Linked DNA regions of Homo sapiens. Each later gene encodes a partner of the first gene's protein in a complex. Each region holds a gene or a part of one and is shown on either strand. Other genes may lie near its edges. The genes, in order: OBSL1 and CUL7.

Region 1 (4,593 bases):
TCGGGGTGTGAACCCCATTGGGGTGTGCTCAGGGTTGTGAGTGTGTTGCCCGTGTGTCTGTGTGTATGTGTGTGGGGGTGGGCAGGCTTGGAGGGGACGCTGGGACCCTTGCCTTAGATTTCTGACTGGTAGGGTTTCTCCAGGCTCAGCCCCACCTCTTCACTCCCTGCCAAGGTCCCATGGGCCACCTCCTGCATGTCTCCGCGGAGGGGCTACCTTCCTTCCCATCGCCCTGCCTCGCAGCCAGACTCATCTAAGGGTTCTTGTCCTTGTCTATGGGGCAAACTGTAGCATCCCTCACCCTGGTCCCCTGGCCTCTGTAAAGCCACCAGCCTGAGGGCAGTGGCAGGAGATGGGGGTGGGGGGGTGCTGCTCTGGGCTGGGTTGGGAAGGGAGTTGGGGAGGGGTTTAAATGCACGGTGCATGTCTGGTGTCTGTCATGCCAACCTAGACACCTCATGCTTCTGTCTCCCCCACCCCACTCTGTTTTACATCTTTTATAAATGTGCCAAACTGTGTGGCCTCTGCCAGGAATGGTGGTCTTTGGTGGCTGGCACTTTCATGGGCCAGGTACAAGCACTACAGCCCTCGGTCCCCAGTGTCGCTCACTGCACAGGGGCTCCAGGCAAGGTCTGCCCCCCCACATCACTCAGAGAGGCAAGGAAATGAGCTGTAGCACTTTTATTGTTCCTTGTCTCTCTACCCCTGCCCAGGGTAAGGGCAAACGCCTTCCAAGCTGTCCAAGGGCACCCGCCTGGCCTGGTTAGGTTCTCCTAGTTGCCTGCAGAGGAATGACTCCACATGGGGCTGGGGAGAGAAGGGGGTACCACCTTCCTCTCCCCTGGCAGAGCCTGGACACCAGTACACAAAGAGCTGGGCCCCCAGGTTCTGCCCTACCCTTTCTGGGCCTTGGTTAGGGCTGTCTTGGCGGCAGGAAGGTGGGGGTCAGCTAGGGGTGGGGCACAGCGCGGCACCTGAAGGGAATGCTGGGATTTGGGATAGAAGGTGGGATGTCTCTTATGGGGAAGAGGAAAGAAAGAGGCTTCTGCCAAGGCTGACATGGAACTTGCTGAGATGGGCAGAGGCAAGCTGGGCAGAGGGCAGGAAGGAGGAGGGACAGGCTGGAGGAAGGCAGTGTTGGTGAAGTGGGGAGGAAAGGAACTGGTAGAAACAGGGCTGTTCAAGAGAGACAAACATGGTCCAGTGGCAGGAGAGAGGAGAAGCCTGGCAAGAAGGGGCGTAGAAAGGTGGGAACAGCTGACCAGGAGCAGCTGATCTGAGCCAAGCAGTTCCAGGGCTTTCCAGCCCTGGGTGTGCTCTACCCCTCCCCTCCCCCATCCCCACCTCCTACGTATCCCAGGACCCGTTGCCACCCCAAGTTCTGGAAAGCCTCCCATAGGTGTGGCTTAACCCATCAGCTCCCAGGCGCCCTCACCCTCCTGCCGCTGCCCAGTTGGCTTTACTCACCCTCTACCAGCAGCCGTGTGTGGGTGCTGTCCTGGCCGGCCTGGCAGCAGTAAGTGCCTTGGTCCTCAGGTCGAACGTCATGGATGACCAGGCTGTGGGTGGGGCCGTGGCTGCGCATCTCATACTTATCTCCCGGGCACAGCTCGGCCCCCTCCCGCAGCCAGCACACGTGGCCCCCCGAGCGGGACACAGTCACCTCCAGCACCGCCCGGCGGCCCACCAGAACGGTCTTCTCGCGAGGGGGGTGGCGGCACATCTGGAGAGGCAATGCTGGGGGTAGGGGGCGGGGGCTTAAGTTAATAGGGACACGCATGGCCCCCAGGAGGAGAGATGCATCTTCCCTCCCTGAAGTCTCCACTCCTGGCCTTAGCCCTCTATGCCACCAGTCCGTTCCCTTGCACCTCAGACCCAAAGTCTCCTCTTGCCGGGGAAACGCGCTGCCCTCTGTGACCCGGCCCAGGAGAGCCCCTCGGGGGGAAGGGAAGAGAGAGGCAGCGTTCTTGGGGCCAGCCCCAAGTCCGTCAGTCCCATGGCAGGAGAGACAGGATGTACACTCTCTGTCGCTCCCACCCCAGGTGCTTACCCTCCACTTCCAGTAGAGCCAGGGACTGGGCGGGCCCCGCCTGGAAGCGGACTTCACCGGCGTCCTCGGCGCGCAGCTCGCTAAGCACCAGAATGTGTTTCTTCCCTGGGGGTGAGGGGGTCGCTAGCGAGGCCGGAGCCACCTCTGAGGAGCGTTGGGGACGAAGGTGGGGGCCCAGCAGGCCCCTGGGTCGGTTCGGACGCCGTTAGTGTATGCTAGGGTGGGCGGAACAGGGATGCGGAGCGGGAAGCCTAGAGGTCCGGGACTAGGGGCTGGGGGCGGGGGAAAGAACAGGGACGAGGCTCACAGGGCCGTGGGGCGGGGCCCGTCGGAGCCAGGGGCGGGGCTTGTCCCGGTGGGGCGGGATCTGTTCGAGCCTGGGCGGGGCAGCGAGGGGCCCGAAAGGGTAACCAGGCGGGCAGACCTTCCTGTCGGATGCGGACGCGGGCTCCGGGTCTCAGCGGGCGGCCTCCGAGCTCCCAGCGCCCCGTGGTCTCGACCTCCGACACGGTGCACTCGAACGTAGCGCCGTCGCCTTCGCGGGCGCTCACCGACCGCAGCTCGGAGAGTACCGCCACAGTACGCTCTGGGGCGGAGCCCGGGGCGTGAGCGGGGCGGGGCAGAGGGCAGTTACCGGTCACGCCCCCTCCACGCCCCCTTTCTAGAAGCACGCGCGGTCATCAGGGTCCGGGGAAGACAGCTCCGCAAGTCTCGCGCCCAAAGCAGTGCCCAGCCTCCACATCACCCCGTACCCACCGCGCACGGTCAGGCGGACCGGTCCGGCGCGGGCCGTCCCCACCGCGCAGCTGTAGGTCCCGGCGTCCGAGGGGCCGCAGCGTCGCAGCTGGAGAAGGCGGCGCGTGCCGAGGGCCTGGAGCCGGAGCCGCGGGCTAGGCGTAAGCGCGTTCCCGTCCTAGGGGCGGGAGTTGCAGAGGGTCGGGGCGAGCCCGGCTGGGCACAGGCGACCCCGGCCCTGGCAGGCGGCGCACCCTTTGTTGATGCCAAGCGGTCTCGAGGCGCGTTTATGCGTGTCTCGTGTTCCCAGGCTGGGGTCGGACTGTCCCCAAGCCTTTGGGGTCGTGCCAGGAGCCTCTTTGAAAAAGCGTCACCCTTTGGGGACCTTAGGGCCGCCAAGGCACTCGGGAAGCCCAGAGCCAGGTATCGATCACAGGGGACATGGGCACGGATTCTGGAGTTAGGCAAACCTGGATTCGAATATGGGCTCTACCTGTTGTCTGCCCTTGGGTAGGTAATTTTTCCCACTGAGCATCAGTTTCCTGATAGGTATTACAGTGACAAGACCTACCTCCTAGAGTTGTCCTTGGAGTAAGGGATTAAATATAATGCAAATCTTAGCACAGTGCCAGGCACATCCGCTCAAGGAATATTAGCTGTTTCTGTCTGGGGCATTATTATCGTTGGTGTTACACTGAAGTGGGCTTGGCTGGGGCTGGGATCTGACCTTCTCCCAGGTAACATCAGCCAAAGCTTGGGAAAGCTCGCACTCGAACGTAGCTGTGTCGCCCTCGGTCACCTCTAGGTCGTGTGGCCCCCGCACGATGGTCACTGGGACCTCTGGGGGTGGGAGAGGGAGGACAGTGCAGAGGGAGCAGGATGGGGACCCATCTTGCAGGGACAAGGAGGACATACACTTGGGCACAACAGGCAGTAGAGGACACTAGCGAGTGGGGTTCGAGCTGGGACAAGTGGTCCAAGAAGGATCTGTCAGTGGTGGGGGTGGGGGGGATGTAGGTGGGCAGGGCCACAGGGCCAATGGGTTAGGAGTGGCCAACTGGGAGTCACACTTTAAGGTGGTCAGTGGGGGAGAAGCTGGGGGCCAGAGGGCAATGGGGAAACAAGCAGAGATGCCAGTGGAGTGGTCAGTGGGAACATCCTGGGACTGGAAGTAAAAATGGGGGACACTCAAGCAGACTTGCTAGTGATGTCGCCCGTAGGCAGTCAGTGGATTCAAGGGACTGGAGTGGTCACGGGGCCCACACTTAGGCGGGCAGAGGGAGCCACGGCAGACAGTGTAGCCAGTAGGGTCACAGTTAGAGTGGTCAGTGGGGTGGTGTGCAGGCGGGCAGACAGCAGTGACCACAATGGCAAAGGCATGCTCTTGGTAGCAGAGTCAGTGGTTGGCTGAGCCTTGGGCAGTCAGGGGCCACACCCAGGCAGAGGACTCTGGGGCCACACAGGGCCTATGAGTCAGGGGGATCACACTCTGGCAGGGATGTCAATGAGGGCCACACTGAGACAGGCATGGTCAGTGGGGGTCACACGAGTTGGGGGTCAGTATTCATGCCTGGGGTAAGTAGGGCCACACAGGTCAGCAGGCAGGCTGTGGTCCTGGAGGCCACACCTCTCACAATGAGTCTGGCTGCGCAGCGCAGGGAATCCGCTGTGAAGGAGACACAGCCTGAGTCGGCCAGGCCCAGGCCATTGAGTACCAGTCGGTGACGGTGGCCGTCCGAGTGGATGTGACACTTGGGTCCTGGATACAGCTGTACTCCACCCCGGGCCCACTCCCCGGTCACACCTTC
Region 2 (7,281 bases), on another chromosome or scaffold:
GGATGCTGGATGATTATGAGGAGATCAGTGCCGGGGATGAGGGCGAGTTTCGGCAGAGCAACAACGGTGTGCCTCCTGTGCAGGTGAGTGGCACATGGTGGTGGGATACTGTTGGGGGTCTATTTGGGGTAGGGCAGAGCTGGGACTTCTATATGGGGGGGCTCCAGCAGGCCACCCAAAGAGAAAGCTTTAGGTAAGATTGGAATGGTGAAAAGAGTCAGTAGTTGAGAGGGGGGCCATTCTGAGAGCTGGGAAAATCTGGGTTTAGGAGGCTGTGAAGTCAAGAAGACTCACACCTGGGAAGAAACTGATATAGCCAGACTCCTCCAAAGGTCAGGGTCAGGGAGATGGAGTGGTGGAGGCCAGAAGGAAGTGTGGGGGCATAAGCCATGAAAGACAGGGTGAGAGGAGAGACAGGCCCATCCCCCAAAGGAGAAGGCATCCTGTGTGTGTGTGTGTGTGTGTGTGTGTGTGTGTGTGTGTGTGTGTGTGTGTGTGTGTATTCTCCATATGCTGCTGTTTTGTTATGTGGAGGTTTTTCTAAAACCTGGCCAGGTGGTCACCCTGAGGGCTATAGTCCTCAGTACTGGGCCACAGCCAGTCATTTGTGAGTCCTCCCTTCCCCTTCCCTCTTTCTTTCCCTATGCTCCAGGTATTTTGGGAGTCAACAGGCCGCACCTATTGGGTGCACTGGCACATGCTGGAGATCTTGGGCTTTGAGGAAGACATTGAGGACATGGTTGAGGCTGATGAGTACCAAGGGGCAGTGGCCAGTAGAGTCCTGGGTAGAGGTGAGCTCAGGGAGGAAGCAAGGGTCAGCTCTGAGCAGAGGAATGGTGGTCCTGCTGAGTTGCTAGTGACATCCTTGTGCCCCTTGGCCCATTTTCACAGCCCTGCCTGCCTGGCGCTGGAGGCCCATGACAGAACTCTATGCTGTGCCTTATGTGCTGCCTGAGGATGAGGACACTGAGGAGTGTGAACACCTGACCCTGGCTGAGTGGTGGGAACTCCTCTTCTTCATCAAGAAGCTGGATGGACCTGACCATCAGGAGGTTCTCCAGATCCTCCAGGAGAACCTAGATGGGGAGGTAGAGCCAGCCTGGAGACACTCAGAGGTTGGAGGGCTCTATTGCAAGGGCTGGACTGTATAGAGCATTTGGAAGGCTCAGGATGAAAAGTGGAGGTCAGAGAGTGGAAGGGGCTGCAGAGGAGGGGTCTGGAATTTTCAGAGGTGGGAGGGTGAGCTGTTTGGGAGGAGCCAGCTGCCAGCTGTGAGAGGATCAGGATGGAGGGTATGTGTGCAGAGAGACCCCCACCCCTACCAAGTGCTCCCTGGGGCCTCTGGGTCGGCAGGGCTGTCTGCAGTGAGAGCTTCTCCTTGATGGCAGATTCTGGATGATGAGATCCTAGCTGAACTGGCCGTGCCCATAGAATTGGCCCAGGACTTGCTGCTGACTCTGCCACAGCGACTCAATGACAGTGCCCTCAGGGACCTGATCAACTGCCATGTCTACAAGAAGTATGGGCCTGAAGCCCTAGCAGGGAACCAAGCCTACCCATCCCTTCTAGAAGCCCAAGAAGATGTCCTCCTGCTAGACGCGCAGGCCCAGGCTAAGGACTCAGAAGATGCAGCCAAAGTGGAAGGTGGGTGCCAGACACAGCAGCTGAGCTGACACACCTTCAGGGCAGTAGCACAGGAGAGATGTCTGTGCTGATTTTTATGCAATCCTTTCTGGAAGTGATGCCACCTTAGAAGCTGCAACTTAGAGAGAAGCAACAAACGGAGAAGCAGGCATTGTGTTCCCTCAAAGAATGAAGGAGGATGTAAAGTTAGAAAATTGCAAGAGAATTTTGAAGACTTAAAAAAGCCCCCACATTTAGCTTTTTCTCTTGTACAGAAACATATTCCATGCTTTGAAATAAAGGGAAGTGCTCTCCTGTTTTCAGATGAAGCTACTTTGCTATTTTAAGAATATAAAGGCCGGGCATGGTGGCTCACGCCTGTAATCCCAGCACTTTGGAAGGCCAAGGCAGGTGGATCATGAGGTCAGGAGATCGAGATCATCCTGCCTAACATGGTGAAACCCCGTCTCTACTAAAACTACAAAAAAAAAAAAATTAGCCGGGCGTGGTGGTGGGCACCTGTAGTCCCAGCTACTGGAGGCTGAGGCAGGAGAATGGCGTGAACCCAGGAGGCGGAGGTTGCAGTGAGCCGAGATCATGCCACTGCACTCCAGCCTGGGTGACAGAGCGAGACTCCGTCTCAAAGAAAAAAAAAAAAAAAGAATATAAAATTTGTCATGAAGCTGTCTTACAATGACATTCAGAGATTAGATCCCCAAACCTAACTTTTAGGGGGATTAAAAAATTTAAAACATTTTTTAGGAGAAATTAGAGAAAAAGATTGAGAGTTATGAATCTATTTCTGAGCCTTCACATTACTAACAATGGCCAACTCCTGTGACTGTCCCCTTCCTGTAGCAAAAGAACCCCCATCTCAGAGTCCCAACACTCCCCTGCAGCGTCTGGTGGAGGGTTATGGTCCAGCTGGGAAAATCCTCCTGGATCTAGAGCAAGCCCTCAGCTCAGAGGGGACCCAGGAGAACAAGGTCAAGCCACTCCTGCTGCAGCTGCAGCGGCAGCCGCAGCCCTTCCTGGCACTGATGCAGAGCCTGGACACTCCGGAGACTAACAGGACCCTGCACCTGACTGTGCTGAGGTGAGAGCATGGTGACAGGTGGGATCTCTGAGGGCAAAGGGGGTCCATGAGGCTGGCTACACATTTCTCTGCCCCCAGAATCCTGAAGCAGCTGGTGGACTTCCCCGAGGCACTGCTGCTCCCCTGGCACGAGGCCGTGGATGCCTGCATGGCCTGCCTGCGGTCCCCAAACACTGATCGAGAGGTACCCCTGCCCTGCTCTGGGGAGAGGCTGGGGGAGAGGATAAAGGCAGCCACTGGCAAGGCACACCTGCTGGGCAAGGCTCTGGAGGGCGTGATAGAGCCTTTGAGCTCTTGGTTTGAGTTTTGCTTTTAAAATTGAATTTTATTTTTTTTAAATAGGTAATACATTCACATGGTTCACAAATCAAAACGCTCTAACAAGGTATACACTGAGAATTCTTGCTCTCACCCAAATCTCTGTTCCCCCAGGGTCCCCCACACACCCCTTACTGGTAACTACTTGTATTAATTTATGTATCTTTCCCGTGTTCCCTTATGCAAATATAAGCAAACCCAAATGTGTGATCTTGCCACTCTCTTTTTTACACAAAAGGATATGGAGATATTATTACATAAAACATTAAGAGCTTCAATAGCTCCATTTTTGGCTGGGCCTGTGGGAGAAAGGGGGATGAAGGAGGCAGAGCGCCCATCACATACCAGAGTCCCCTGCAAGAGCTACAGAGAAGTCCTGGGCACAGAAGGCTTCAGAAGGGCTCAGAGAACTAGGGTCATGGTGACAGTAGGTATTTGCAGTGTGGCTATATTTTTGGCTGTTACCTAGAATTTACTTTCTAAGGCAGGCTCATTGGGTATAATACACACACAAACCCAGTCCCTGTCAGCCCCTTCCCAGCCATCCAGGTGTCTGTGCCTGAACATCTCAAAACACAGCCCTACAACTGGTTTTTGGGACAGTAGGGCCTGGATGAAAGAACCCAGGGATGCTCTCTGCCGTTTTTGCCAACATAATCAGCAGCCTAGAACCCTAGAGTAGCAGGGCATCTTGTGCCCTTTTCCATTTTGGTTTGTCTTTGGTTCTCTAACCACCTGGCTCTTGTGTCTCCCCATCCCTGTCTTTTCACTTCGTCACTCTGCCTTGCTCACTGTAGCACCCCTAGCACCCAGTACACAGAGTACACAGTGGGTACCTGCTACTGCAGGTGCCCTTGTGGCCCTCGCCCTGTCTTCATTCATCTCCTCCCTTATGTCCCCACCCAGGTGCTCCAGGAACTGATTTTCTTCCTGCACCGCCTGACCTCAGTGAGCAGGGACTATGCCGTGGTGCTGAATCAGCTGGGAGCAAGAGACGCTATCTCCAAGGCCCTGGAAAAGCACCTGGGAAAGCTGGAGCTGGCTCAGGAGCTGCGGGACATGGTGTTCAAGTGTGAGAAGCATGCCCACCTCTACCGCAAACTCATCACCAACATCCTGGGAGGCTGCATCCAGGTCAGGAGGAAGGGGAGCTTGTGGGCTTAGAGTGGCATCAGAATATGAAACCCAAGCAGTGGCGGGTAAGGGCTGTGTTCCCATGGCTGGGAACAGCAGGTGACTCTAGTGACCCTGGGGCATTTGTTCCCCTTCCCCTCTGCCCCATCTGGGCCTGCTCTGCTGGTGCTGTAGAGGAAGTCCCACTGCTGCATGGTCTCTCCTTCATCCGTGTTTCCGTGTGTGTCTCCGTGTTCCTTCTGCCCCTGTGCCCCTTCTCTCTGATGTTCTGGCTGCAGATGGTGCTGGGCCAGATCGAAGACCACAGACGAACCCACCAACCCATCAACATCCCTTTCTTTGATGTGTTCCTCAGATACCTGTGCCAGGGTTCGTGCCTGTTGCCGTGTTGCTCCACCTCCCCACACCTATGTCTGTTTCCCCTCTACACCCTACCTGACCGTGACCACCACCCCTTCCCACTTGCCCCCAGGCTCCAGTGTGGAAGTGAAGGAGGACAAGTGCTGGGAGAAGGTGGAGGTGTCCTCCAACCCGCACCGGGCCAGCAAGCTGACGGACCACAACCCCAAGACCTATTGGGAGTCCAACGGCAGCGCCGGCTCCCACTACATCACCCTGCACATGCGCCGGGGCATCCTCATCAGGTAACTCTCCCACACATGTGCTTTGCCACACACGTGTGCTTTCCTGTGACGCCCCTGTGTTTGTTTTGGGGGAAGCACCACCCCCTGGACTTGGCCATGGGCCCTGTCTACAAGTTCCAAATGGTTTTTCCTCCCCACTCCCAGGCAACTGACTCTGCTTGTGGCTAGTGAGGACTCGAGTTACATGCCGGCCCGAGTGGTGGTGTGCGGGGGTGATAGCACTAGCTCTCTTCACACGGAACTCAACTCGGTAGGACCCCAGGGCCATTAGCCATTACTCCACCCCTCACAGGATCTGCCCTCCTGCTTCTATCTGGCCCTATCCTACTTTTTTCTAACTCCCACCTGTCTTGAGCCCCACAGAAAGTAGTGTCCTTTATCCCTGTGCTTGTGCCACCAGGCCCTGAACAATGAGGGTGGCATGAGGACAGCTTTGTCAGGACCCTACACATCCCAGGGCTGGGGAAGGGAGGGAAACAGTGAGGGGACTGGAGCCTAGAGCCAACTTGGCTCTGCATGTGTGGAGGTGACAGCTTTCTCTGCCCCCTGCCAGGTGAATGTGATGCCCTCTGCCAGCCGGGTGATCCTCCTGGAGAACCTGACCCGCTTCTGGCCCATCATCCAGATCCGCATAAAGCGCTGCCAGCAGGTGGGGCCAGGGATGTGGGGTGTGGCCCTGGGTAGGGGGCTCTGAGCCCCATAAACAGGCAGATCTTAAGCCAGAGGACCAGCCTGGGTCTCGAGCAGCTCCAGGGGTGAGGTTCGAGGGCGTAGCTGACCCCAGCCCATCCCAAGGTGTGGAGCGAGTGAAGATAGTCCTGTGTGTGTTTCAGGGTGGCATTGATACGCGCATTCGGGGGTTAGAGATCCTAGGCCCCAAGCCCACGTTCTGGCCAGTGTTCCGGGAGCAGCTCTGTCGTCACACACGCCTCTTCTACATGGTTCGGGCACAGGCCTGGAGCCAGGACATGGCAGAGGACCGCAGGAGCCTCCTGCACCTGAGTTCTAGGTGTGTGAGAGTGTGCGTGTATGCTTGTGTCTGTGGGAAAGGTAAGGCTATTGCAAATAGCTGGCAGGCAGGGGTCCATAGAAGCTGTGAGATGGAGGTTTAATATGCGTGGGGAGGGGGCTGGAGTTTTCTGAGCTGTGGGAGGGGAAGAAAGGATAAAGAGAAAAGATTTCTCCAGTGGGCTGGGAATGGGATATACCAGTTAGCACAGAGCAGTTCTGAAGTACCAGGGGGCCTTCGGTTTGGGTGCTGGGGTTAGCTGGCAGTCTTAGGAAGGGTGGACACTGAGATAACATATGCTTCAAGCCCCTGACACCTTCCTCCTCCATTCTCACCCCCAGACTCAACGGTGCTCTGCGCCAGGAGCAGAATTTTGCTGACCGCTTCCTCCCTGATGACGAGGCTGCCCAAGCTCTGGGCAAGACCTGCTGGGAGGCCCTGGTCAGCCCCGTGGTGCAGAACATCACCTCCCCTGGTAACCATCCTGACATCTGGACCCATTACTATCTCAGGGCTTGGTTCCACTAATTAGTTCCTTCTTGCTCTACCCTAGAACCACCTGGATTATGTCCTGGCCCTTTTGGCACCTGCATTTGTAATCCCAGTGCTGTCTTCTCACAGCCCAGGGGCTGCCCCCTTTCCCATGTCTCTCAAGTGTCAGGGGACACCATAAGTGCTGGAGGTGCCTTGTTACCCACTCCCTTTATCATTCTTCTTTTTTTTTTTTTTGAGACAGATTTTCGCTCGTTACCCACGCTGGAGTGCAATGGCATGATCTTGGCTCACTGCAACCTCTGCCTCCCAGGTTCAGGCAATTCTCCTGCCTCAGCCTCCCAAGTAGCTGGGATTACAGGCATGCACCACCATGCCTGGCTAATTTTATTTTATTTTATTTTATTTTTTTGAGACAGAGTTTCGCTCTTGTTGCCTAGACTGGAGTGCAATGGCGCAGTCTCGGCTCACTGCAACCTCTGCCTCCAGGGTTCAAGTGATTCTTCTGCCTCACCCTCCCAAATAGCTGGGATTACAGGCATGGGCCACCATGCCCAGCTAATTTTGTATTTTTAGTAGAGATGGGGTTTCTCCATGTTGGTCAGGCTGGTCTCGAACTCCCAATCTCAGGTGATCCACCCGCCTCAGTCTCCCAAAGTGCTGGGATTACAGGCATGAGCCACCGCGCCTGACCCACACCTGGCTAATTTTATATTTTTAGTAGAGGTGGGGTTTCTCCGTGTTGGTCAGGCTGATCTCGAACTCCCGACCTCAGGTGATCCACCCACCTCAGCCTCCCAAAGTGCTGGGATTACAGGCATGAGCCACCGCACCTGGCCTTTTCTATTTTTTTATGCTTATTTCTTATTTTTAAAGATGGGGTCCTGCTATGTTGACCAGGCCAGTCTTGAACTCCTGCCTCAAGCGATCCTCTCATCTCAGCCTCCCAAAGTGCTGGGATTACA

The links.
Region 2: OBSL1 (region 1) and CUL7 share a complex: the UniProt entries of both Homo sapiens proteins name them as parts of the 3M complex.

Annotation. Positions count from the first base shown.
Region 1 is NC_000002.12:219,550,062-219,554,654, forward strand, and holds the end of OBSL1 (obscurin-like protein 1 isoform 1 precursor), read right to left. Parts: coding exon 4,413-4,593; intron 3,626-4,412; coding exon 3,513-3,625; intron 2,964-3,512; coding exon 2,807-2,963; intron 2,637-2,806; coding exon 2,475-2,636; intron 2,156-2,474; coding exon 2,051-2,155; intron 1,738-2,050; coding exon 1,468-1,737; intron 1,225-1,467; coding exon of another isoform or gene 1,181-1,224; exon of another isoform or gene 808-1,180; coding exon of another isoform or gene 782-807; coding exon 774-781; coding exon of another isoform or gene 764-773; 3' UTR 667-763; downstream 1-666. UniProt on the Homo sapiens protein: Core component of the 3M complex, a complex required to regulate microtubule dynamics and genome integrity. It is unclear how the 3M complex regulates microtubules, it could act by controlling the level of a microtubule stabilizer.
Region 2 is NC_000006.12:43,043,770-43,051,050, reverse strand, and holds part of CUL7 (cullin-7), read left to right. Parts: coding exon 1-83; intron 84-652; coding exon 653-791; intron 792-891; coding exon 892-1,088; coding exon of another isoform or gene 1,089-1,115; intron 1,116-1,388; coding exon 1,389-1,644; intron 1,645-2,481; coding exon 2,482-2,719; intron 2,720-2,797; coding exon 2,798-2,903; intron 2,904-3,061; exon of another isoform or gene 3,062-3,074; coding exon of another isoform or gene 3,075-3,104; intron 3,105-3,943; coding exon 3,944-4,171; intron 4,172-4,449; coding exon 4,450-4,540; intron 4,541-4,643; coding exon 4,644-4,815; intron 4,816-4,959; coding exon 4,960-5,065; intron 5,066-5,368; coding exon 5,369-5,464; intron 5,465-5,648; coding exon 5,649-5,824; intron 5,825-5,904; exon of another isoform or gene 5,905-6,165; coding exon 6,166-6,299; exon of another isoform or gene 6,300-7,281. UniProt on the Homo sapiens protein: Core component of the 3M and Cul7-RING(FBXW8) complexes, which mediate the ubiquitination and subsequent proteasomal degradation of target proteins. Core component of the 3M complex, a complex required to regulate microtubule dynamics and genome integrity.